Linked DNA regions of Homo sapiens. The protein of the gene in region 6 purifies or fractionates together with the protein of the main gene of each other region. This does not show direct contact. Each region holds a gene or a part of one and is shown on either strand. Other genes may lie near its edges.

Evidence for each region.
Region 1: the proteins of NUDT3 (region 6) and FAM167A purify together in Homo sapiens (co-immunoprecipitation; one large-scale study listed by IntAct). This does not show direct contact.
Region 2: the proteins of NUDT3 (region 6) and PITRM1 fractionate together in Homo sapiens (co-fractionation; one large-scale study listed by BioGRID). This does not show direct contact.
Region 3: the proteins of NUDT3 (region 6) and IMPA2 purify together in Homo sapiens (affinity purification with mass spectrometry; one large-scale study listed by BioGRID and IntAct). This does not show direct contact.
Region 4: the proteins of NUDT3 (region 6) and AZGP1 purify together in Homo sapiens (affinity purification with mass spectrometry; one large-scale study listed by BioGRID and IntAct). This does not show direct contact.
Region 5: the proteins of NUDT3 (region 6) and CTSH purify together in Homo sapiens (affinity purification with mass spectrometry; one large-scale study listed by BioGRID and IntAct). This does not show direct contact.
Region 7: the proteins of NUDT3 (region 6) and A2ML1 purify together in Homo sapiens (affinity purification with mass spectrometry; one large-scale study listed by BioGRID and IntAct). This does not show direct contact.

What each region holds. Positions count from the first base shown.
Region 1 is NC_000008.11:11,460,254-11,463,753, reverse strand, and holds part of FAM167A (protein FAM167A), read left to right. Parts: intron 1-3,500.
Region 2 is NC_000010.11:3,166,283-3,169,782, forward strand, and holds part of PITRM1 (presequence protease, mitochondrial isoform 2 precursor), read right to left. Parts: intron 761-3,500; coding exon 654-760; intron 99-653; coding exon 1-98. UniProt on the Homo sapiens protein: Metalloendopeptidase of the mitochondrial matrix that functions in peptide cleavage and degradation rather than in protein processing. Has an ATP-independent activity. Specifically cleaves peptides in the range of 5 to 65 residues.
Region 3 is NC_000018.10:12,005,507-12,009,006, forward strand, and holds part of IMPA2 (inositol monophosphatase 2), read left to right. Parts: intron 1-2,831; exon of another isoform or gene 2,832-2,903; coding exon of another isoform or gene 2,904-3,085; intron 3,086-3,500. UniProt on the Homo sapiens protein: Phosphatase that can use myo-inositol monophosphates, myo-inositol 1,4-diphosphate, scyllo-inositol-1,4-diphosphate, glucose-1-phosphate, beta-glycerophosphate and 2'-AMP as substrates in vitro.
Region 4 is NC_000007.14:99,969,631-99,973,031, forward strand, and holds part of AZGP1 (zinc-alpha-2-glycoprotein precursor), read right to left. Parts: intron 2,377-3,401; coding exon 2,116-2,376; intron 1-2,115. UniProt on the Homo sapiens protein: Stimulates lipid degradation in adipocytes and causes the extensive fat losses associated with some advanced cancers. May bind polyunsaturated fatty acids.
Region 5 is NC_000015.10:78,931,547-78,935,046, forward strand, and holds part of CTSH (pro-cathepsin H isoform a preproprotein), read right to left. Parts: coding exon 3,432-3,500; intron 913-3,431; coding exon 826-912; intron 496-825; exon of another isoform or gene 51-495; coding exon of another isoform or gene 1-50. UniProt on the Homo sapiens protein: Important for the overall degradation of proteins in lysosomes.
Region 6 is NC_000006.12:34,389,870-34,393,875, forward strand, and holds the start of NUDT3 (diphosphoinositol polyphosphate phosphohydrolase 1), read right to left. Parts: upstream 2,801-4,006; 5' UTR 2,494-2,800; coding exon 2,395-2,493; intron 1-2,394. UniProt on the Homo sapiens protein: Cleaves a beta-phosphate from the diphosphate groups in PP-InsP5 (diphosphoinositol pentakisphosphate) and [PP]2-InsP4 (bisdiphosphoinositol tetrakisphosphate), suggesting that it may play a role in signal transduction.
Region 7 is NC_000012.12:8,850,121-8,853,620, reverse strand, and holds part of A2ML1 (alpha-2-macroglobulin-like protein 1 isoform 1 precursor), read right to left. Parts: intron 3,462-3,500; coding exon 3,347-3,461; intron 1,838-3,346; coding exon 1,609-1,837; intron 1,412-1,608; coding exon 1,285-1,411; intron 1-1,284. UniProt on the Homo sapiens protein: Is able to inhibit all four classes of proteinases by a unique 'trapping' mechanism. This protein has a peptide stretch, called the 'bait region' which contains specific cleavage sites for different proteinases.

The DNA.
Region 1 (3,500 bases), on a different chromosome or scaffold from region 6:
GGACCAAGCCCCCATTTCTTCAGTGTGGCCGGAAGTTCCCTCCAGGGCATCCTGATCCAAAGGTGGAAGCTGGCAGTAGATGCCCAAGGGCTCCCTCGCAGGGCTTGTCCCTTGGGCATCCCTAGAGGGACAGGCCCAGGTCAGACCCCATTTTCCAGGTCCAGTGGCAGGTATGGAAAGAGCCTAGGCAGTGACTTGTGCACTGGCTACAGTTCCAGGCCTTCTCGAAGGCTGGGCAGTGTTTCCTCATTCCAGGAAGCCAGCGGAGCCTCTGCGAGCTGGCTGGGCACAGCAGCCCCTAGGTCAGCAGGCTCATGCTTAGGGTGGTGGCCACCCAGGAAGGTTCTGGATGAGGGTCTTTGCCTTAGGGACCTGGCCCCCACTGTCCACCATCAAGTTGAAAGTGACACTACCTCCCTAGTCTTGTGATCAGCTCCACGCACTTCGCCCTGGAAGTCCCATGCCAGGCGTGAACTGACCTAAGTCCCTCCAGTCACAAAGGCACTTCCCAAATTTGGTTGTGTGGCTGCTGCTATTTTGTTTATTTGTTTGATAGCAGCCACTGAAAACTTGGAGGAAGGTGAAGCCAGCCTCATTATCAAGTTTGAATGAAAGCAGCCTCAGAGCAAATTCTGCCAGACGTACACATTTTTGGACAAATATTTACCTGAAACAAGTCCAGCGGAGTCCATACAGCCTGTCCTGTGGGCTCGGTGAAGCCCAGCAATCTGCTCTCTGCTGCCCTGACCACACCTCCCTGGAGCTCTCATGGATTCTTTTACCTGCTCTTTCCTGAGTCAAGAGTGTCTCTGAATTCATTTAGCCAACCCACACATCTTGAATACCTCTGTCTTTACCAATGAGAACGCATTTCTAATATTTACTTTGCTAATCATCAAATGCCCAATGCTGACCAGAGATAAAGACGCTGAAGTGCCTGTCCCTGCTGCCTCTGGAGCAGATGCTTTCTGCTTCGAGGCAGTGGCTGCGAGTGGGGTAGGGGTGGGCGTTGCTGATTTGAATACATCTAGGTTGTAGCTGGCATAATGAAACCACACAGAACAGCCCACCATCTCTGCAAAGGAGTTTAGGATCCAAATGCACCACCCTACCAAGGAAGCAGAAGGTGAAGGCCGTGCCCTCAGGGAGCGTGCAGTCTGGCGAGGTTGCTGATGCAGTAGAGTCCTGAGCTCACAGTAAAATGCTGTTCTGCACGCTTCAGTTAACTTTCGCAGTGCAGGAGCCATTTCCCAATTCGATGGACCAAGGAGAGTGACAGCCAAGCACAGTCAAGAGCAGGAGGTGACAGTCGTATTAGAGGTGTAACTAAAAATTCACGTAAACTTGATCTCATTTGGTCCTTCCAAGACTGTGAGGTACGATCCATTACAATCCTGTTTCATGGATGTGGAACCTAGGCCTAGGAGGGTTGAATCTGTTGATCAAGGTCATAGAACTAGTAAGTGGCAGGCTGGCTGTCAACCAACCCACGTCCCCCGACACCCGGCTCTGCCCTGTTCTAACTTGCTCCATCCCTTTCTCCTGCTCCTGATTCCTTTCCTCTGCGAGGTGTGAACCCGGGAGGCTTCAGCAGCCAAGTACCTCCAGCGCAAGCTGACACGGCAGGGAAGCAAAGTCACACATCCCATTTTCTGCCCTGCCTGCGGGCACTCAGGCCATATGTCCCTGCCAAACCCCAGTGCAGGCACAGCGCTGCACCTGCAGCCACTTACAGGCTGCACTGGGCAGTCCAAGCCAGGCTGAGGCCACACTGGGACCCCACTGCGTCCAAACACCAGGAAACCCTAAGGACCCTTCTAGCCCCTGAGAGGTCAGGACCCCCAGCCCGAACGTGGAGGTGCCCAGTTGGCATAAGCACAGGGAACACCGTGAAAGGCCTTACGAAGCCTTTTAGAAACTCTGGGCTTTGGAACTTGTGCTGCAGAGTAAAATAGAAATCAGATCATCTGGACAAATCCCCCCTTGAGCTGGCGTTTGTTGATTCTGCCTATTTTCAACTTGGAGCCAATTATCCTGTGGATTCAAATAGTCCTAGATCTGCCTTGTTTGGAGGCTGAGGCCAATGCCAGCTGGTTAGGAGCCACTCTGGTGGGCTGAAGCCACAGGGGAGGGCACACATCCCCCGTGTCCTTAGCTGTGCCCTGGTGTCTGAGTTTCAGCCAGCTGGGAAGTGTTTCCTGTTTGTATAGCCAGGGTACCGGCCTGCGCTGCATTCTGCTTTCATCTCTGCAGATTGCTTTAAAGGCCACTCTGTGTCTACTTTCTGCCCTCTAATCCCCACTGCCACCATGGCCTTTGGCCAGAAAAGCCCTGGGTCTCATGTGGCGGTTGGCGGGGCGGCAGCAGGCTGCCTTAGCCCGTCTGGGCATCCCTGCCTTGTCGAGCGTTTCCCGGGAGGAAAACCACATCCTTCTCTTTTTTTCCCATGGCTACTTTCCCCCTCCCCATCTCCTCCAAACTGTCAGATTCTCAGGCACCTCTTCCTGCCTGCCAGGGCCGCCCTTTCCCAGAGCCCCGCAGCCTTGGAAGGGACACACCAGCGACTGGGCGTCCCAAGAGCCCCTCTCCCTGCAGTGGCCCTGGGCTTTCTCCCCGCCTTGCAGGGAGCCCATAAATTAGATCTGTGGCTCCCAGGAGCCAGGGCCTCTTTCTGACCAACAGGGAAGCAGTATTTCTTGGCAATTTTCTCAGCAGCCTCTTTCACCGGGCTAAATGAAAAGGAAGGTTTCCGCGCTCCCAGCCTTCCTGCAGGAGGACTGTGCGTCAGCTTGAAGCAGCCTGAGCCCATCAATTATTCAGCATGGACCCAGCACTTTGAATTTGCAAAGGTCTTAAGTATTTTTATAGATTCTTTTCTCATAATGTCCCAGCGAGACAAGCAAGGTTTCCCTGTTTCCTAGACAATAGATGCAGGGTTCAACTCGGAGTCAGAAGACTTGGGTGCAAGCGCAGCCAGCGCCACTCATGGAGCTGTGGGACCTGGGGCAGTTCTTTCGATGGCTCTGGTGTGCAGTTCTCTGTGGTATAATTCTTAGGAAGGCCTCCCTAGCCCAGGTCATTGTGTGTGTGGGGAAAAAAATTTGCAAATGCAGTGTGATTAAAAAATGCATGTGGTTGCTCTTGTTGCACCAGGTGTGGAAACGGAAGCTTCTATCCTGAGCTGAAGTGCAACCATTAGCATAGGACACTGCAAACCGGGCTCTGCTGGGAGACAGTCCCCAGGGAAACGTGGGCGAGTCGGCGCCTCTACTCCCTGGCCCCGTGGGGGTGGCTCCATGACATGGTGGTCCCACTACCTGCTGCTGTGGGCTGACTCTGCATGTGTCAGGGTGGAAGAGGGCACGGAGGTCATCACACCCAAACCAATGGCTTAGGGTGGGATGGGACCCCAGTAGCTGACTCCCAGGTCGGGAACTCTTTTCTCTTCCACACCAGGCTGGCTCTGTCCAAAATGTTTCTCCCGCTCCCATCGGCAATGC
Region 2 (3,500 bases), on a different chromosome or scaffold from region 6:
GGTCTCTGCACGGATATTTCTGAGACCCACAAAGGACGGTATGCTCAAGAATGTGAGGAACACCAGTACTGTCCATGGGAGTAGTACGGAACTGCACGCTAGGGAAGGAGAATGACCAGAACGCAAAAGGTTCAGCTTAGTGCTGCGGACACAGTTCCCAGATGCATCATCACCTCAGGCTACTAGAAATCATCATTCTGACACCACAATCCTCCAGCACAGGGTTTTCCAACTATAATGTAAATCATTGACTCAGACTGTAAAATTGTATTTTGATGAGATTATAAGTCAGTGTAAACTTTTCCTTATTTTTCAAGATGCTCTGTCAATAAAAATACTAGTGAGATGATATTTTAAACCACGTAATGTATAGCCATGTTTTAAATCAAGCTTGTCCAACCCGCAGCCTGCAGCCCGCATGCTCAGGATGGCTTGAAATGCAGCCCAACACAAATTCATACACTTTCTTAAAACATTGAGGGGTCCTTTATTTATTATTTTTAGCTCATCAGCTGTCCTTAGTGTTAGTGTATTTTATGCGTGGCCTAAGACAGTTGTTCTTCTTCCATTGTGGCACAGGGAAGCCAAAAGAATGGACATTCCTGATTTAAATAAAAACATTCAAGACCATGTTCTTACAATGCACCACACACCTGAACAGATTATTCGTGTCTTCTCTGGCCAGGTGTAAATACCTGGCTCCTGTGTCATCATGGGTGAGCTTCACTGCAGTCAGGAACAGCTCGGGAACAGATGTCACCTGAGTTAACAAGAAAAACACGACCAGTTAAACTTAGACAAAATGGCCTTTGAAATGGTTATGTTCGACACACTGAGAAAACTGGCTTTTCTGCCTGAAATTAGATGATGCCGGGAAGGCAGTATTTCAGAGCTGGAGAGAAGAGAACCATCTTGTCCAGGTCCCTTATCCTACAAACAAGGAAAGACAGACCTAAAAAAGGCAGATGAGAATATGTGTGTGTGTGTATAGAAAGAGAGAGAGAGCGAGCGAGCGAGCGAGCGCGAGAGCGCACGCGCTTACTACTGGCTAGGTATTTTAGATTTTTTTATTTTTTAAATTTTTTATTCTTTTTTTGGCTAGGCATTTTCTAATCATGTCACATATAATCCTGTGAGGGAGGTATTCTCATACTCATTTACAGACGAAAAAACCGAGGCTCAGGGTGATGAAATAAGCTGCCTAAATCACAGAGCCAGGATTCACCCTGGTGTCTGCCCTTCCCATGGTACCATGCTGCACCTAAGTAACAGAGCGCCCTTTCCAATGTCTGCTGAGTGTCTCCTGCTTTTGTGTGCTGTGCCTCAGTAACACAGCGCCCCTTCCAATGTCTGCTGAGTGTCTCCTGCTTTTGTGTGCTGCGCCTCAGTAACACAGCACCCCTTCCAACGTTGGCTGTGTGTCTGTTTCTGTGCATATCATCTCCTGTAGTGCGCAGAACGGGCCTGCAAGGAGGGGAAATGCTAGAGTGGGCTAGCCTGCGACAGCAGGGAGAGGCTCTAGGATCAGCCTTTGCTTCTCTTAGTTTAGGATGGGTTCTCGGTGGTAGCTAGAAGCACAAAGCTGTGGCTTCCAGAACAGCTGGAGGGGCCGGGAGGATAGAAATGCCCACAAGACAGACGAAAGACTCCCCACTCCTGGGGCGGCGTGGAAGGTCATCTCCTACTTTAGGTAAGCCTCCTGGTAAGTGACCATACTCCTCGGTATGAAAGAAACTGTCTTCTCTTCCAGTCATGCCAGCCGGCCCTCTCCCTCAATCACACACCACGTCCCTGTGATCACCACACCACTCACCACCCCCTCCTGCCAGGTGCCATGAGTCACCTGGCCAAGCGCACACAGTAAGTCGCTGGCCAAGGTCAGACCTCGGGTCTCCTCAGCCCAATCTAGGGAGCCTGCCACGCAACAGTCATGCATAAAGCAGACCACTATGACCTGCATCATCTACCGCCGCGAAATTACTTCTGTTTCCAAGCTCACTGTACTTTGTAACAGATGATCAATGCTTTTGAAGTCAGCAGATACAGTGAGATGTTTGCTTTCTAATAATATATAGCTTTAATAATAATAGCTTTCATGGTAGCTATTTCTCAAACAAGAATCATGACTTATCGTAAGTTTCTATGGCTGGACACAGTGGCTCACACCTATAATCCCAGCACTTTGGAAGGCCAAGGTGATATGGTTTGGCTGTGTCCCCACCCAAATCTCATCTTGAATTGTAGTTTCCATAATCCCCACATGTTGTGGGAGGGACCTGGTGGGAGGTAATTGAATCAAGAGGGCGGTTTCCTCCATGTTATTCTCGTGACAGTGAGCACGTTCTCATGAGAGCTGACGGTTTTATAAGGGGCTTCCCCCTTCACTTGATCCTCATTCTCTCCCCTGCCGCCCTGTGAAGAGATGCCTTCCACCACGATTGTGTTTCCTGAGGCCTCCCCAGCCATGCAGAACTGTGAGTCAATTAAACCTCTTCACTTTTTAGCTCATACTTTATAAATTACCCAGTCTTGGGTATTTCTTCATAGCAGTGTGAGACTAGACTAATACACAAGCAAAAGGATTGCTTGAACCCAGGAGTTTGAGACCAGTCTAGGCAACAAAGTTTCCATCTACACACACACACACACACACACACACACACACACACACACACACACACACAATTAGCCAGGCGTGGTGGCACCTTGTCCCAGCTACTTGGCAAGAGGATCGCTTGAGCCCAGGAGTTCGAGGCTGCAGTGAGCCAAGATCATACCACCACACTCCAGCCTGGGCGACAGGGTGAGTCCCAGTCTCAAAAGTAAATACGTTTCTATAAAATTTGAGAAATAAAGGAGGAGAATCTACCGCTGTGGGTGAGGCCCTTATTAACAGTAACCTGTACCATAAACCCAAGTGTCTTTGCCTGGCCTTTGCAGGATTTCACAAACGCTCCAAGTCTTTTCATGAGTCCCATGCCTGGACCTTGTCTGGCGCACCCTAGTCACTGCCCTGGCTCCCTTGCTGGAGCCCTGACCGAAGGCAGCCACGTTCTCACACCACCCTCTCCAGGAGCTCTTCCCTCTGCCCCCAGCAGCAGCAGCTCCCACTCCTCCTCCTGCCCTTGTCCTTGGCCCTCCGCGTGGCGTCCACCATGTGCCTCCGGTCACAGCCGCAGCAGTCTTTCTAGACAGTAAGCTGTTTGTCTTTCACGTTTGCTATAACATCAAGCATAGCACAAAGCCAACAGCTGGCCAAATACATGAAGCGTGTCATTTTCAGTTACCATGCTAAATAGAAACAATGCAAAAGGTTTAGGCAAAATAACAAAACAAAAACCAAATGAATCTATTTTAATACAGACCCAAGTAAGTACAGGTCCACAATTGCTTCTTTATCATTCTGAAACCCGAATGGCTCAGAAAACTGAAAGGTTCTGCGGACGTTTAGAGCAAGCTATTTGATGGCAAAACCTGACTAAACAGATCAGGGCAGTGAG
Region 3 (3,500 bases), on a different chromosome or scaffold from region 6:
TAAAAGTACTTGCTGGGTTACACTAAATGAAACCTAAAAAACAAATAGATAAATAATAAAGGTTACACACAGCAGAAGCTTTGTTAACAAATTAACTTATATTAATAGTTGCTGCTGGGAAAACAAGCTGCTTGGTGACTTCCCTAAAGGGTGTCCCACGCATCTGGCGAATGAACAGACAGAGCTCCTGCTCCCGAGTGTCCTGGGAGGCACGTGGGCATGCCGCGTGGGTGGTCTGGGTGCTGCAGCGTGAGTTGTCCTGGGTGTGGAGTGTCAGTGCCTGCAGACCCACACTGCCTCCTCCTTCAGGGCTCACTGGCAGTTTTCTTTCCACCGCTTCAGTTTCCTACTTGAAGTCAGGTTTAAAAAGGAGAAGAATTGCACATTCCTCCTCAGTTTCTTAGAAACTTACCTTTGTGCCTGAGTCATTTCTAGTCCCTCTGGACCTGAGTCATATCTGTTCGCTGCTTTGTCAACCTTGTGCCCAGTTTAAGCTTTCGTAGTTGCTCCTTGTATGTGTGTTTTCAGGGTGTGGAGCGTTTTCTTTAAAAACGTCATTGCAAGCCATTACAGAAGAGGAAAGTCACATAGCTACAGAAGACATGGAAAAACAGATTTAGTGCCTGAAGTTTCTAGGAAAACTGGCAGTGCTGACAGCACTTATGATCACGCCCTAAGTGGAATCATCACCTGTGTGTCTCCTGCAGGCTGCTGTTGTCAGGAGGCAGCCTCTCCACCCCCTGCCCCGGCTGCCATTGTGGCTTCTACCCACCATTTTTCCTCCTAGATCTGTTTGGGGAGCACCAGTTCCTGAGCAGGGGCTCTGGCTGGTGGGCCTGTGCATCACCTGACCTAGAAGCATGTGGACAACTGAGAGTGGAGAGGCAGTTCCTGCAAGGAGCAAGGCGTGCAGTGTAGATGAAGAACCAGAAGCCTGGGTTCACTGCATCTCATCTGCCTTGCCTGGCTAGGCTGAAAGCTCCAGGGGCAGACTGAGCCTGCCCAGGCTCTCCAGGAACAGCTGATGATTCCTTGGGTGTCTTGCTTAGTGCTCCTGGCTTGACTTGACCTGGTCTTCTTGGCTCAGAAGCCCCTGCTTATTCGTGGGTTTCTCCAGGGGGCCGGGGAGGAGGTCGCACAGCCTGAGATGATGTATGCGTGCACTTGTCGTATCCCAGGGTTGTATTTCTAGATAATTTATCAGCAAAATGGAGGGGCTGGATGACTCTGCATCCCAGGCATGAACTTCATAACCCAGCAGTGGAAGGATGGTCCCAGAGTGGATGGGGACCAGGGTGGTTACAGTGTGTATGGCAGCTCCCGTGCATAGAAAAGTGACATCGGGCCAGGCGTGGTGGCTCACGCCTGCAATCCCAGCACTTTGGGAGCCTGAGGTGGGCGTATCACGAGATCAGGAGTTCAAGACCAGCCCGGCCAGCATGGTGAAACCCCATCTCTACTAAAGATAAAAAAAATTAGCCAGGCGTGTGGCGCACGCCTGTAATCCCAGCTACTCATGAGGCTGAGGCAGGAGAATTGCTTGAACCCGGGAGGCAGAGGTTGCAGTGAGCTGAGATCGCGCCATTGCACTCCAGCCTGGGCGACAGGGCGAGACTCTGTCTCCAAAAAAAAGTGACATCGAATACCATGAGATGCCTGCTGTTGCCTCTCAGCATCTCGGTGGGAGGACAGCACTGCCAGCGGCTCTGTCTGTTGCTGCAGGGGTGGCCCACATCTGCTGTGTCCACAGTGGTAGCCGCTCACCCACGTGACTGCCAAGCACTTGAAAGGTGGCTCATGAGACTGAAGAACTGAAGTCTTTATTTAATTCAAATGTAAGCAGCCATATGCGGTGACTGGCTACTGTAAGGCGCTGAGCGGTCACAGAGGTTTTCATTTCAGTCTTTCCATTCACACTCAAGTCTCCAGCCTTATCCAAAAGTTCATTGATGCCAAATCTTAGACCACATGGTTCGTGCGGGGAAAGTGGCTTCCAGGAGGCTGATGACCACAGTGGATAATACACCAAACACCAGAACATGGGACGCTTCTTTCTTTCTTTCCTTCTTTTCTTTCTTTTCTTTTCTTTCTTTCTTTCTCTTTCTTTCTTTCTTTTTCTTTCTTCTTTCTTTCTTTCTTTCTTTCTTTCTTTCTTTCTTTCTTTCTTTCTTTCCTTTCTTTCCTTTCTTTCCTTTCTTCCCTCCTTCCCTTCTTTATTTCTCTCTCTCTCCTTCCTTCCTTCCCTTCCTTCTTTCTTTTCTTTTTCTTTTCTTTCTTTTCTTTTTTTTGAGATGGAATCTCACTCTTGTCACCCCGGCTGGAGTGCAATGGCATGATCTCGGCTCACTGCATCCCTCCCGTCCTGGGTTCAAGCGATTCTCCTGCCTCAGACTCCCAAGCAGCTGGGATTATAGGCGTGCGCCACCACCCCCAGCTAATTTTTGTATTTTTATTTCTTTTTCTTTTTTTTTCTTTTTGAGATGGAGTCTCACTCTCCCAGGCTGGAGTGCAGCGGTGTGATCTCAGCTCACTGCAACGTTAGGATCACTGCAACCTCCGGCTCACTGCAACCTCCACCTCCTGGGTTCAAGCAATTCTCCTCTCTCAGTCTCTCAAGTAGCTGGGAGTACAGGCGCCCACCACCACGCCCAGCTAATTTTTGTATTTTTAGTAGAGACAGGGTTTCACCATGCTGGCCAGGCTGATCTCGAACTCCTGACCTCAGGTGATCTGCCCGCCTTGGCCTCCCACAGTGCTGGGATTACAGGCGTGAGCCACCGCGCCTTGCTTGTTTTTCACTTATTTTCTTTTTCTTACTCTCTGCAGGTCTCCTTTTTCTCTAGTACACATGTGAACCCGGCACAGGAACTGGATAGAAAACCTCTCGGCAAGGCCACATAGTCATGCACAGAACAGATGTTTGCTTAGCGCCTGCCCAAGGCCTCACCCTTAGTGAACTTGGGACAGTCCAAGAGTGTCAAAAGCACTGCCCTGAATGCTTTAGATCTAGTCTTTTCTTTGATCCTGAGAATGCCTTTGGAAGGTGTAAACAGCGGCCAGCTCCACAGGGACCAGCCTGCAGAAGGTGGGCTGCGAATACACCTGACCACAGCATCTTCCCTGTGTGTGTGGGCCTGCGTGTGGGTGGGGTGCAGGAGGAAGGGTGACAGTGCATGGGGCGAGAGTGCTTTCCCTTGTTTTTGGCCTGAGCAGGGGGTGCTGGGAGTTGCCATTCGTGGAGGTAGAGGCAAGTAGAGAAAACCAGGAGTTCCCTTCTGTGCAGGTGAATCTTGAGAGAACATTGTCTCGGTCAGGTTCCTAGCAGGACAGACGCACACTCAAGTGAGGATTGTAGGGGGCCTTGTTTGCAGAGGGACTCATTACAAAGGAGGGGCCAGCCCAGGGCCTGCTGCAGAGTGCAGGAGCAGGCCGCCCATGTCCCTCTAGCAGGAATGTGTCAAGCAGGCCACATGGAGGAGTGGAGCCTGCACAGGGCACAT
Region 4 (3,401 bases), on a different chromosome or scaffold from region 6:
ATCTCTTCTAAGGACAATTATTTGTTTGAATTTATGCTGAGTCCTGAGGAAGCTGTCACAACTACACCAAAGTGTACTTCCAAATTGGATAGAAATTATTTGTGATTTCATATGAGTAAAGGAAGGCTCTCTTTTTCTCTCAGTTCTAGGAAGAGTTCATATCATCACCTAAGTAACCCTAATCTGATCACTTCTTTCTACCTTTCTGGTGTTTGATATCTTTATCCCAAATCTCTAAAGCCCCAACCTTCTTGCCCATTAGCCACAACTCTCAGAAATGGACCTCATAGGGCAGGGGACACAGCCTCTTTGTTCTGATGATAAAAGCAGGTGTTTACCCAGCACTGGTTGGTGCTGTTGGCATAGACTCTGAAAGCTCTCAAGCTGTCTGGGCTCACGTCCCAGGTCTCTCCCCAGCCCCCCACCCCCACCTGGTGTGTTGCCTGAACTGGAGCCACTCAACTCCCTGTGCCTCTATTTCCTCACCTCTGAAATGGCAATGCCAAGAGCACTGTTTTAGGGGGCTATTCTGAGCATTATATATGCTCATAGATGGGCCTGGCACAAAGTAAGTGCTCAGTAAATGTCAGCTACTATTATTTCCTTTTTTTGTTTTTTGTTTTTTGTTTTTAGACAACGTTTCACTCTTGTCACCCAGGCTGTAGTGCAATGGTAGGATTTTGGCTCACTGTAACCTCTGCCTCCTGGGTTCAAGCAATTCTCCTGCCTCAGCCTCCTGAGTAGCTGGGACCACAGACGTGTGCCACCATGCCAGGCTATTTTTGTATTATTAGTAGAGACAGGGTTTCACCATGTTGGCCGGGCTGGTCTCGAACTCCTGACCTTAGGTGATCTGCCTGCCTCAGCCTCCCAAAGTGCTGGGATTACAAGAGTGAGCCACCAAGCCCTGCCTTCTATTATTTTCTAATACCCTGTGTTCATCTCCTCATCCTCCTTCCTCTTAATTATCCACTTTGCCATTTCTATTCCTGTCCATCAATGCTTCCCCCAGTGTCTTTTCTGATCACCTGTGCCCCCTCCTCTCCTATTGCTGACACACAGCCTGGGCCATTTTCCTTACCAAGACCTCCCCCACCCCACATCCTTGAAACATCTGCCTATCTCTTTCTTGCCTCCTTTTGAAAATCTTCAGATCCCATGTAGCACCTTGGGCATTTTTGTACTTAGTAGCCCATCTTTTGACACCCACTCTATGATAATTTAACACCAGCAGTTCACCAGACCTGAGGTTGGCTGCCTTGGGGCTGGCAGTGTGGTTTAGGAGAAAGAGCACTGGGCCGGGGGCACAGGGACCATCTCTGCACGGGCTCTGCCACCAGCTCCTCTGACCATAGCGCAGGTGGCCCTTCCTGGGTCTGCATCGTATGGTAAGGAGGAACTTTAGGGCTCCAAGGAACTCTAACAGCCCACAGTTTTGAATCCAGCACTTCCTGAGCCCCCAGCATGGGCTACGGTGTGTGCTGGGTGCTTTTCTCTGTTGATTCCACAAATTTCAATTGAGCCAATATTGGCTGTACCCTGTGCTAGGTGATGGAGCTGCAAGGGAGATCAGGACAGACTGTGACATCCTTCATAGAACAGACATAGTTAAATATTACAGACTTGTTTGGAGGTAGGTCTCAGTGCTCCAATGTTTGCAGATTTCAACCAGATATTTTGGGAACGTTTCACTGTCAACAGCTAGGACTGGCAGAACCACCAGGTGAGCCCAGGTCTGAGTGACTTTGAGAGTGGCTCACTCTCCAGGCAACCTCCCTGGACAGGGGTGAGTCTGATGCCTTCTCACGGGGGTATCAGCCTCCGATGGGTGGGGTGTGGAGGTGAGAGGTCATAGGTGCCTGGATAGGAAGTGACTCTGCCATCACTTCCTGTGTGACCTGAGGCCTGGGATGAGGATGGGGCAATTGATGGGGAAGCGGGGAGCACCTGTGCTGTGGGGTGGGTGGGATGTGGACATGTCTGTGTTTCTGCTGTGTCTCCTGTTCTTCCCCTGGGATTGGGACTATTTCCATCCTGCTGATCCCTTGCCACTCACACTGGGGGGGCTGCCTCTTGGGTTAGACCTTCCACCCCTGTGGTCTGTTATTCACTGACCGTTACTGTCGTTGTAATACTCCACGATGTCTTTCAGGGTCTCCATAAAGATGTCCTCCCTGGCCTTCTGAAGTTGGCTGTCCTGCTTCCAATCCTCCATTCCTTCCACCTGTCTCCAGAGTCCCATGGGCTGAGACTTCCTGTCTTTACTGTTGTATCTAAAGAACTGGAGGTCATTGAGTGAGCCAAGGGCCTGAAACGCGGGGACGTCTTCAACATGCTTGGACAGCCCAGTGTAGATATAGGTCAGAGAGTAACGACCTGCAAAAGAAAAGATTCTGATGGTTGAGGTCCATGCAAGGGTCCCACTGTGGGGCTGCATAGGGCTAGGAGGGGAGACCTGCCACTGGCCTTTTCTTCCCCAGCTCTTTCTCCTGCCATCAACTTCACACCACTGGAGGCTCACTCAAGTGAATATGCTCTACTTTCATGCCTGAGATGATATTTCAGAGACCATCCTGTGTCTTCACTACATTATTTCCTCTGCTTGACACATAGGAAGATAACATTACTCAGCCACCTCGAAGATATATTGGGACCATGTGACTGAGTTTTGTCAAAAGAGAATGTGAGCAGAAGTGATGTCTTTCTTCTTGTCCAAGACCCTACCAGCTGGCTTGTCCCTTTTGTTTCTCATCCCTAGAGGTGACGACTTTGAAGGCCACAGGATAATATGAAAGAGTCTCAATATGCAATTGGCCTGGATCCCTGAGTCACCCCATGGAGGAATGGAACCTTGCCCAGTGTGCATGGAATCTGACATGCGTTAGAAATTAACATTTCTAGGCTGGGCTCCGTGGCTCATGCCTGTAATCCCAGGACTTTGGGAGGCCAAGGCAGGCAGATTACTTGAGATCAGGAGTTGAAGACCAGCCTGGCCAACATGGTGAAACCCCATCTCTATTAAAAAATACAAAAATTAGCTGGGCATGGTGGTGCGGGCCTGTAATCCCAGTCATGCTGGAGGCTGAGGCAGGAAAATCACTTGAACCAGAGAGGCAGAGGTTGCAACAAGCCAAGATCATGCCACTGCACTCCAGCTTGGATGACAGAGTGAGACTCCGTCTCAAAAAAAACAAATTAACATTTCGTCCGGGCTCAGTGGCTCACGCCTGTAATCCCAGCACTTTAGGGGGCCGAGGCGGGTGGATCACGAGGTCAGGAGATCGAGACCATCCTGGCTAACATGGTGAAACCCCGTCTCTACTAAGAATTCAAAAAATTAGCCAAGCATGGTGGCGGGTGCCTGTAGTCCCAGCTACTCAGGAGGCTGAGGCAGGAGAATG
Region 5 (3,500 bases), on a different chromosome or scaffold from region 6:
GCCGTCAAGGCTTTGGCGTGAGGCGCTAAGCCTCCCTGGCTGAGCCACATCTGAGGCCCCGTCAGTGCTGTGTCAAGGTGACCAAATTATAAACTCCCCAAGGGCAGGGACAGTTGCTGTATGTCCTGCAGTGCCAGCCCAGCAGCTGGCACATGTCGGGAGGGGCTCAGTAAGCAGGGGCAGCCAGGGAAGGTGAGAGGGGGCAAGGGCTGTTGGGTCCAAACCCCTGCCCCGTAGGTGTGCCCATACGATGCAGAGTGTGGGGTCCCACAGCGGTGTATAGGATGGGGGAAACAGGCCCAGCCAGAGACCCTACCCCCACCTGTCCACAACCCAGGGTCCTCATGGCATCACCAGGCCGGCTGTGCACTGTCCCTCCTTTCTCCACAGAGGCAGGGGCTAGGATAGTTCCTTCAGGGGCATCATCCGTCTCTTGTGGGCGAGGGGATGGATGCATAGGTCCCGGCTCTTCCCTCATGAAGACAACTGAGGCTGCTGGGAAGGGTGTAGCTCCTAGTTGGCTACCCACCAGGCAGGCTCCGCCTTTCTGAACCCCTCCGCCGGGAAGGCTCCAGGCTGTCAAGCTAAGGACCACCCAGATCCATCTAGGAATGAGCCCTTGGGCCGGTTCCTTAATAAACTCAGATCCTTCCCGGGAAAAGCATCAATTGAGATTCTCATGCCAGATGTCCACAAGGCTGGGGCATCTGGGTCCACCTGAAACAGCACCCTTAGCCAATGCTCCAGGGAAACCAAAGGCCCAGGCCTGGCCCACATCAGGATGGGGTGTCCTCCGCAGGGGGTCGCCTGTGGCTGATTTCTTACCAAGGACAGCATCTTTCCGGTTGCGATGGCGATCGCAGACTCCAGGGCCCCAGTGGTGGAGAAAGTCCAGCAACTGCCGCAGGCACCCTGGAAAGGCCAGGGGAGAGCAGAGGACATCAGTGATGGGGACGCCGTGAGACAGCCCTGCCTTCTGCCTTCCTCTGCTGACCCTGCCAGAGCTCCCGAGTCCCCAGGTGCCTTGGCAGTTTACCAAGCCCTGTTCCAGATCCATTCATTCTGAGCCTCGCAGGCCCTGTTCCAGATCCATTCATTCTGAGGCTCGCAAGCCCTGTTCCAGATCCATTCATTCTGAGCCTCGCAAGTCCTGAGAGGCTTGCAAAGGAGCAGGAGCAGCAGGTGGCCTCTGACCAGTGCCTGTGGACTCCCAATCACCACCTCTTGGTGGCCAATCCCCACCATTCTGCCAGGGCCTGGAGTCCCCCACCCCATTCTGCAGTCTTCTGGCTCTCTTCCTTCTCGATCTTCACTGGCTCCTCTTTTCCCTACTGGTTCCCTGCAGAAGGATGCCCCAAAGTTCTGTTTTTAGAACCTTCTCTCACCTTTCCACCTCCAGTCTCTTCTGCCCAGTCCTGTTAAACTAACAGCTCCCCAAACCCTAGCCCAGTGCTGACCTCCACTTAGGCTCAGACATCCAACTAACTGCCAGACAACCCCACCCAGACACCCCTGACACCCCAGACTCTGGGGGACCCGCCCCATCCACCCATTTCCCCACCTTCTAACAGTTCATTGCCGCTGCCTAGCCCCCTTATTCACAACACCTCCAGAATAACATGAGGATTAGGTGTGGGGGGCTGCAGCCTGCCTGCCTGGTTCACATCCCAGCTCTGCCACACACCAGGTGGGTGACCTGGGCAAGTCACTTCCCCTCTCGAAGCCTTGGCTTCATTGCTTGTAAAGTGGGAATGGCGAGGGTTCCTGCTTGCAGGGCGCTAGCAGGGTTAAGTCAGATTCTGCTGGTCAGGCAGTCACCCCCGTGGGCACAATGCTGGTGGCTGCTGTAAGGATTTCTCTCAGGTTCATCTCTGTTTCCTCACCTTGCTGGTTCAGTCTTCCAGCTTCTACTTCTGAAATGTCTCTTAAGTCCCCTACCTGCCTCCCAGGTCATCACCCTAGGTTGACACTGGCCTCACCCAATCTCTTCCCTTCACATATCTCTCTCAGCTGGGGGAGGGAGGGACGGCCTGGTGAGAGGGTCCATGAGACAGTCAACGAGGCAGACGTGGCCACTTCGGGGGAGACTAAGCTCACTGCTGAAGGAGGCGGAGCTCGGCTGACCCTTGGGTGCTCGACTTGGGGCAGGGGCCTGGTTTTGAGTCCCCTTTGTCACTTACTTACCTTGGACCTCAGGCAAACCACCCTCCCTCTCAGGCTCTCCCTCTGTAAAGTGAGAAACTCTCAAGGAGGGTGCTGAGCTGATGGACGCTGTGGCTGCTGTCCGTCTCTATCCCCACACAGCGGCCACAGTAAGAGACGGCACACATCTGCGTCAGGAAGCACCTCATTCCGCTCCCTTAGCCCAGCCGGCTGCGTCCTGCCTGATGGCCCAGGATCAGTTAACAGGAGGACTTGGAAAATTCTTGGTGGGCCTCTCTTTCCCACCTGTCCAAGTGGTGGGCAGGTTTAGGTTACGTGTTGCTCTGAATTGTCATGTGGTTCTCAGAGGGTCTAAAAATGTCACGGGGCAAAGGCAGGCTTCTACTCCACCTCCTGCTGCAAGGGGAGGTTTGCTTTGGCTCCTGATGCTAGTTAAACATCCAGCACTTGGCAGGCTCCAGGAACACTGCAAGCCCGGGAGGCTTTAAAGCTGTGCTGCATGGATGGCTTTTTGGAAAGTGAAAAAACATTTCTCATGGAGAATTTCGATGGAAAGCCAGGAGTTTCCAGGAAGGAAACCTTCACCTCATATTTCCTAGAGTCCAGAGGTCGGCATCCTTCTGAAGAAGGCCACGGCAGGTTCCCTGCTAGGGGAGGGGCCGCAGCAGGCCGGGAGAACAGCGGGGGCAGGGTCCAGACTCTCTGGGACAGGGCCTGTGCTGAGATGCCCCCAGACTGCTCCCCCATGGAGGAAGGCAGGGCCTCTCACCTTGCCAAGCCCTCTGTGCCCCACAGCAAGGGCCACGGAGGCCAGCCCCTGCCATGAGAAGCTTGCTGATGCATGACACATGGACTAACCAGAGGGAGGCGGCCAGCCAGGGCAGGGGCTGGACCCTGGTGGCTCGGAGAAGATGGAGGCGGGAAGAGGAGATGCATGGGGTTCTGGTGTCCAGATGGGCACAGGGAACATAACGTTTTGGATGGCTCTGTAGGAGAGACCTGGGACCAATGGGAAAATCTGGGGCGTGGGGAAGGAAGGGAGTAAACTTTAGCCCAATAAAGAGGAACTTTTGCATCCTCCAGAGCAGCCTAGAGAAGTGCTGACCTCCCTGGCCCCTCAAAGGAAGAGGGCTGGAGAGATGCCGAGAGGAAACAGAGGCAGGGATGTGCTTGTGGTGGTTTTGTGGACCTTTTGAGTTGTTCTTCCTGGTGTATTGTCTGGGAGTGTGGCCGTTTTGCAGGGAGAGGATGGAGATTGCCAGGCATACCTGATTTTTCACAGGTGAGACAAAATTTCCTTTTTTCCGCCAGTCCACGGAAGGTGGGTAGGGACCAGT
Region 6 (4,006 bases):
AGGAGAATGGCGTGAATCCGGGAGGCGGAGCTTGCAGTGAGCCGAGATGGTGCCACTGCACTCCACCATGGGCGACAGAGCAAGACTCTGTCTCAAAAAAAAAAAAAAATACAGAAAACTAGCCAAGCATTATGGCAGGTGCCTGTAATCCCAGCTACTCGGGAGGCTGAGGCAGGGAGAACAGCTTGAACCCGGGAGGTGGAGGTTGCAATGAGCCGAGATCACGCCACTGCACTCCAGCCTGGGCGAAAGAGCGAGACTCCGTCTCAAAATAAATAAATAAATAAAAATAAGTAAATAAATAAAATTTTAAAAATAAAAATGCAAGCTCCTAGAATCGCCTGAACCTGGGAGGCAGAGGTTGCAGTGAGCCAAGATGGGGCCACTGCACTCCAGCCTGGGCGACATAGCAAGAGTCGGTCTCAAAAAAAAAAAAGAAAAAAAGTAAGCTCCTAGAAGGCAAGTCCTATGCCTGGTCTGACTTGTGAGATGCCGTGAGGTAGCCTAAACAGACAAGTAAGCTTTCAACATTAATGTTGCTAATGTCAGTGCATAACAAAACATTTAACAGAAAATGGAAAATTAAGCCGTTGCTAGTTTGCTTATGATCTATAGTTTTCAATTTATCAAAAATACATTTTCTATTTCTAGTATGATTTATTATTATTATTTTTTTTTATATTTAGAGATGGGGATCTGTGTTGGCCAGGTTGGTCTCGAACTCTTGGCCTCACCACCTTGGTCTCCTGAAGTGCTAGGATTACAGGCGTGAGCCACCACGCCCGGCCTGGTGTGATTTTTTTAAAACAAACAGTCTTGCATCATTCGTACAACTAAATTATACTTATAATTGGGGTGCTCACAGATTTATGCATACTAGTGTAGTAAGACATGCTATTATGCTAATTAGTTTTCCCTTCAGTTAAGAGCCTGTGATCCCATCTGATTTCCCATAACATGATATGATAATGAGGAGAATAAAGGCTCTGGAGCAATAAGCACCACCAATAATTTTACTTTACTCAAATATGCATTCCAAAACAGTATATAATTTACAGCATGGCCCTGGTTAGCTATTACAATGCATCTGTTTTGGGGACTTTTACAATATATGGTAGGATACAAAGCATACGTTTCCAAATCTCCTTTCGTTCTGTTTTGCTGAAAGGGAGCACACATGGGATCCCTTAACAACACAATTCACTAACTAATTTTCTTCAGGCAGTAATTCAAATTCCCACTTCCTCCTAAATACCTCTGGACAGCAACTCCTGGCAATCCATCTGTCTCTTTCGCCACAGCTTCTTTTCATAACTAACGGGTCAAGTTCCTTTCCCCATTTCGACACTGCACTGTACTGCGGCCCTGCCACCATAGCCCACTGCTGAATCCAATATAACATATTGGATTTCACTGTCCTTCATTGTTTCCAGTTTAACTGCCATTTTACCACCATGCACACGAGAAATGCATTCCCACAGGCATCTTATGAATTTCCAAAGCAGCTACTCTTTTGTGGATTTACAAAACATGTGCTTCTCTGAATTCCCTTCATCACCACAGAAACGGCTTTGGGAAGCCGAGATTTTTTTTTAAAGTACCCTACCTATTATAAAAAGAAACTGATTCTAAAACATTATTTTCCTAGCTAATTTAATCCTAAGAGTCTTCCCACAAGGCAGTGGAGGAACGTCAGGGCAAAAATGTTAAATACCGCTTTTGGTCTTCCCAATTAACATGAAACATTTTCAGCACACAAAGATTATTATATCAAATGTCTTTTCTTCTCAGACTACACCATAAAGGCTACCCAGCGCACTGTAAAATAAACAGCTGGCTATGGCTTATGCACAACGCCCTAAATCTTCCGAAGACACCCCACCCCCACCCCTCAGCTTTGGGCTCACAGACATATAATCCCTCGGCAAACCCCAAACCTGCCAATGAAGTGCACTATTTCTCTGCCACAAAGGCCGGCCCGCGCCTCGTGCACGCCGGCCTCCGCACACATGTGCCTGGCTGACAACTGCGGAGCGGCCCTTCCAGGATCAAAGCCGTTGGCCTGGACCGAAAGCCGCACTCTTCCCAGCCCACTGCCTTCTCCCGCGGCCGCTCTCCCCGGTAACAGGCGGCGGAACCGAAGCGCTCCGGCCACAAGCCGGCTACCCCCTCCGCCCGGCGCGCCCTGTGCAGCCGCACTCAAACCCGCTTCCCCTCAGCCCCAACGTCCTTTCTCCTTCCCCCTTTTTTCGCCTCAGGAAATTCCATCGGAACTTCATTCCGCCCGAGCGGGGCGGCCCTGGCACACCCTCCTCCGGCGGCCGCGCCCCTCGCGCCTCCACCCGAAGGGGCCGGAGACCCGGCGACCCCGGCCCGCCCAGCCTGCCGCCTCACCTCCTCCTCGCTCTCGCTGCGGAAACACAGGCATGCGGCCCGCTTCTTGTAGCCGTCGCCGTCGTAGGTGCGGGTCTGGTTCGACTTGAGCTTCATCATCCTCCGGGCCCGGGTGGGGGTGCGGTGCGGGTCGCAGGAGTCGAGGGGTGGGGAGCCCGCTCTGGACGGCCGCGTGCGCGCGCGCCCCCGGCTCGGCCAAGGGAAGCAGGGAGGGGGAGCTTCTCCGCTACACGGCTCCGCCGCTGGCCCGCCGCGGCCGCCTCATTCCCCCAGGCCCAGGTCCCGCGCCGCCGCTGCCACCGTCACGGCTGCCGTCTCCGCTGCCGCCAGGGCCGCCGCCCCCTCTGCCGCCGCCACCCCCGACGACGACCGCGCCGCCATCTTGGGCGCGATGCGTCAGCGGCGTAAGGCTGCACCGGCCTGCGGGACGGCCGCGCGCTCGCAGCGCAGGCCGCGTTCGCGAATCGCGCCCTCCCAGTTCGCGCGGTGGAAACCAGCATCTGAAAGGAGAGGGACGCGCGACTCCAGGCGACCGCTACGCCGGCAGCGTAGGCGTAGAACTGGTGGGGTGCGCGGAGGAAGCCGGGGGAGATAAGAACAGCGGCGCAGGACGCCTAGCGGCCGGAGCGGAGACCGAGCGGTCCAGCCGCGCAAGTCTGCGGATGGGGAAGCGGGGACTTGGCCAAGGTCACGCCGCGTCTCCGCGGCCGAGGATGAACCAAGGTCACGCCACCCGCCCCTGGGCCCTGCCGGTCGGTCTCGAAGGGGTTGAGGGGGAAGGTTTGTTGGAAAAAGGAGGATGTAGTTAAAGGCAACGGAAGCTGCAGCCTGAGACATCTGGGATTTGGAACTGCAAGGAAACGGCGCATGGGAGGCGTGTGCACTTTGCGTTGATAGCCTGAACCTCAGGATGTCTTAGGGGCTGGTGCATGTCGCCCATTACAAAGAACAAATATTTATTCTGCAATCTTTTATTGATGCTAAAGGTAATTGCTTCCTCTTATGGTAAACAAGAGGGCCAGAAAGGAACACGCGCGCGTGCGTGCGTGTGTACACACATAATGTAAATCATAAAACATCATCGTTTCTGGCAATAAATGAGGAGTGTGTGTTGTGGATGTCAAACAGATTCTCCAGGAAAAGATATACAGACAGAAGCTCTCCAGAAAGGAAAACTGGTGTATGACCTGTGAATGTTCTCAGCAACCCAGAACAAACCAAGTACCATGCAGATGCCCTAAACGTACCAAAAATCCTGTGCAGTATCTGTCTGTGAGTTGTTTAATACCCTTTTTTGTTTTTTAAATTTTTTTATTTAATTTTTTAAAATTTTTTTATTTAACATTTTGTTGCCCGGGCTGGTCCGGAATTCCTGGCCTCGAAGCTATCCACCCTCGGCCTCCCAAAGCACTGGGATTACTGGTGTGAGCCACAGCAGCCGGCTAATTCCCCTTTTTGAATTTGCTTGTATTTAGCATAGTCAAAAAGATCTGGATTTGAAAGCAAATACACCTTGGTTGTAACCTCAATTACATTTTTTTTAATGCTCATACCACCCGATTACATCATATTTTAACTTCCGCAAAATAGAGACCTACTTGGCCCTGGCACA
Region 7 (3,500 bases), on a different chromosome or scaffold from region 6:
AGCCTGTAAGGATCAGAGACTTTGGGATGAGCTTGAAAAATCAATCCTCTCCTAGTCGAGTCTTCAGATGAAACCAGAGTCCTGACTGACAGCTTGATTGCAACCTCATGAGATACCTTGAGCCAGAGGTACCCAGCTAAGCTGCACCCAGATTAATGACCCATAGAATCTGTTTGATAATGTTTGTCCTTTTATGACACTTAAGTTTTACAATAATTTGTCAAGCAACATGAGATAACTCATACATATGAAAATCAAACTTTGAGTTGCAAGGATTTAATCTATGAGTGACTGACATCCCATAGGGTTGGGGGTGAGGATTAAACAAGTTAAAGGTGCAGTGACTCATTCTTGTAATCCCAGTACTTTGGAAGGGTGAGGCGGGAGAATCACTTGAACCCAGGAGTTTGAGAACAGCCTGGGCAACAGAGCAAGACCGCTTCTCTGCCAACTGAATTAGCCAGGCATGGTGGTGGCATGAGCCTATAGTCCCAGCTACTCCGGAGGCCTAGGTGAGAGGATCGCTTGAGCCTGGGAGGTTGAGGCTGCAGTGAGCAATGACCACACCACTGTACTCCAGCTTAGGTGACAGAGTAAGATCTTGTCTCTCTAAAAAAAAATAAAAGGCCAGGCGCAGCGGCTCACGCCTGTAATCCCAGCACTTTGGGAGGCCGAGGCAGGCAGGTCACCTGAGGTCAGGAGTTTGAGACCAGCCTGGCCAACATGGCAAAACCCCACCTCTACTAAAAGTACAAAAATTAGCCGGGTAGGGTGGCACGCGACTGTAATCCTAGCTACTTGGGAGGCTTGGCAGGAGAATCACTTGAACCCAGGAGGTGGAGGTTGCAGTAAGCACAGATTGCACCACTGCACTCCAGCCTGCGCAACAGAGCGAGACTTCCTCTCAAAAATAAATAAATAAAATAAAAATTAATTAGTCAATCAATTTAATGAGTTAATATATGTAAAGCAGTTAGAATAGTGCCTGGCCCAGGGACTCTTATAGTAAGTCCTTGATTAGTTACATGACCATGTATTCCTTGTCCAGCTATAAATATTAAAAGCTCTCCCTTTCACACTCAAAATATTCCGGTTTGAACAAATTTGTTTGGTCACCTATCAAAGAGTGTTTGTGTATTGACTTATAACAGCCTTAGGAGGGAGAAAAATAGTGGAAAATGGAGGAGGAAGCAAAGCAGATGTGGCAGAGGAAAAGACTGAGTGCTCAGTCACTGGTCTTCTGCTGCTGGCTTTCCTCGCCCGTCTACCACTTCCCTCTCTTACCCAATTTGACAGCTGTGATGTTCCAGTGGTGGGTTTTTGCGTCATCAGCACAGAGACAACTGGAGGTCTGAGAATCTGCCCATGATTCTAGCTGGTACTCATGCGATTTAGCCAGGTCAGTCTGAACCTACGGAGGATGTTTAAGAGACAAAGGGTACAAACAAAGGAGGTAGTGCATAGAGGCCTGGGGAAACCTGGGGGCTGAGACGCCGACATCTCCTCTCTTTCCCAGGGAAAATTGGGATGCTTCCAATTTAGAGACAAACTTATGGGGGAGGTGTGATTCCAGGGCTGACACCTGATTCCTGTATCCCCAGCTCTCACCCTGATGCAATCCTTTAGGTAATTGAAGATGGTGGCAGTAAGACGAAAGGATTCCCCACGGACTACTGAGTAAGGGAGAGTCAGGTCAACAAAGAACGGCTTGAAAGCAGTTAGTCCAACAGTGGGTGAAAGCCCGAAGCCTCTTGACTGGGAAGTGCAGAAACTCATCGCCTTCCACTCGGTGATGGCGTCAGGAACTGTGACGTGGACCGCCTCCTTCCCCGAGTTACTGTGAAAACACAAGGACCAACATGAGGCAGAGGTAGCGTGGGGCAAGGAGAACATTTGTGAATTAAGCCACAAATTCGGTGGGGTGTGCTGGCTTACACTTGTAATCCCAGCTCTTTGAGAGGCTGAGGTGAGCAGATAGCTTCAGCCCAGCAGTTTGAGGCCAGCCTGGGAAACATAGCAAGACCCTATTTCTACCAAAAATTTAAAAATTAGCCAGGTGTGGTGGTGCATGCCTATAGTCCCAGCTACTTAGGAGGCTGAGGCAGGAGGATTGCTTGAGCCCAGGAGTTTGAGGCTGCAGTGAGCTATGATTGCACCACTGCACTCCAGCCTGGGTGACAGGGCAAGACCCTGTCCAAAAAAAAAAAGCTACAAATTCATCTGCAGAAGTAAAATTGTTATTGTTATTGTATGGGGAGAAGTAAAGAGGCAACTGAACAGGTGAGTCTCAGTGTGAGTGAGGCTGCACTCATACGGAGGAGGGGGACTATGGTGGGGAGTCGGGGTGGGCATCTCTGTGCAAGCACATCTGACAGAGAGGCTGGTGCCCTCTGAGTCTGAGGATGTGTGGTCTCAGGGCTTGTCAAAATGGATATGCAAGCAGTGAGCAAAAATTGATGTCAATATATACCTTTAAATGTGTGTGGTTCTGTAGTGAGAACACAGGGCCTGCAATGTGTGAGTGTGGAATTGTGTGGATTTGTTTTGAGTGGTTGTATATGAATGCATGAAGAATTCAGGTAGGCCGGGCGCAGTGGCTCACACCTGTAATCCCAACACTTTGGGAGGCCAAGGCGGGTGGATCACTTGAGGCCAGGAGTTCAAGACTAGCCTGGCCAACATAGCAAAACCCTGCCTCTACTAAAAATACAAAACTTAGCCAGGTGTGGTGGCATGTGCCTATAGTCCCAGCTACTTGGGAGGCTGAGGCACAAGAATTGCTTGAACCTAGGAGGTTGAGGCCTACAGTGAGCCAAAATCATGCCACTGCACTCCAGCCTGGGTGACAGAGCAAGACTCTGTCTTAAAAATAAAAAGAAAAAAAGAATTCCGGAAAATAAATAAATTCCCACACCCCATCAAGCTTTCTTTGCTTAAGATTTAGATCCATTAGGAATGCGTCTGATTCTGAGTTTTCTACAGGCTCTACATTGCAGAATCTTACTGTTTTTTTTCTGGGTTTGTTGTTGTCGTTGTCGTTGTTGATTTTGAGAAGGGTTTTGCTCTGTCACCCAAGCAGGAGTGAAGCAATGTGATCTTGCTTCACTGCAGCCTCCACCTCCCAGACTCAAGTGATCCTTCCACCTCAGCCTTCCAAGTAGGACACAACTACCATCTGGCTATTTTTTTAATTTCTTTTGTAGAGACAGAAGCTCATTATGTTGCCCAGGCTGGTCTTGAACTCCTGGTCTCAAGTGATCCTCCCTCCTAAGCCTCCCAAAGTGTTGGGATTACAGGCGTGAGCCATGCACCTGGCCCTTTACTGTACTTTTGAGTCATCACTTACCCAATAGGAAACAGATCCCAGAGCCAGGTCTCTGGGAAGTACTGGCGGACCTGAGAATCCTCTGCTTGATGTAAAGGAGTTGATGACTCAAAAGCCTCTGGATGACCACCGCCTGCTGATGAAATTGAGAATACGAAAACTTTAGGAAACAGGA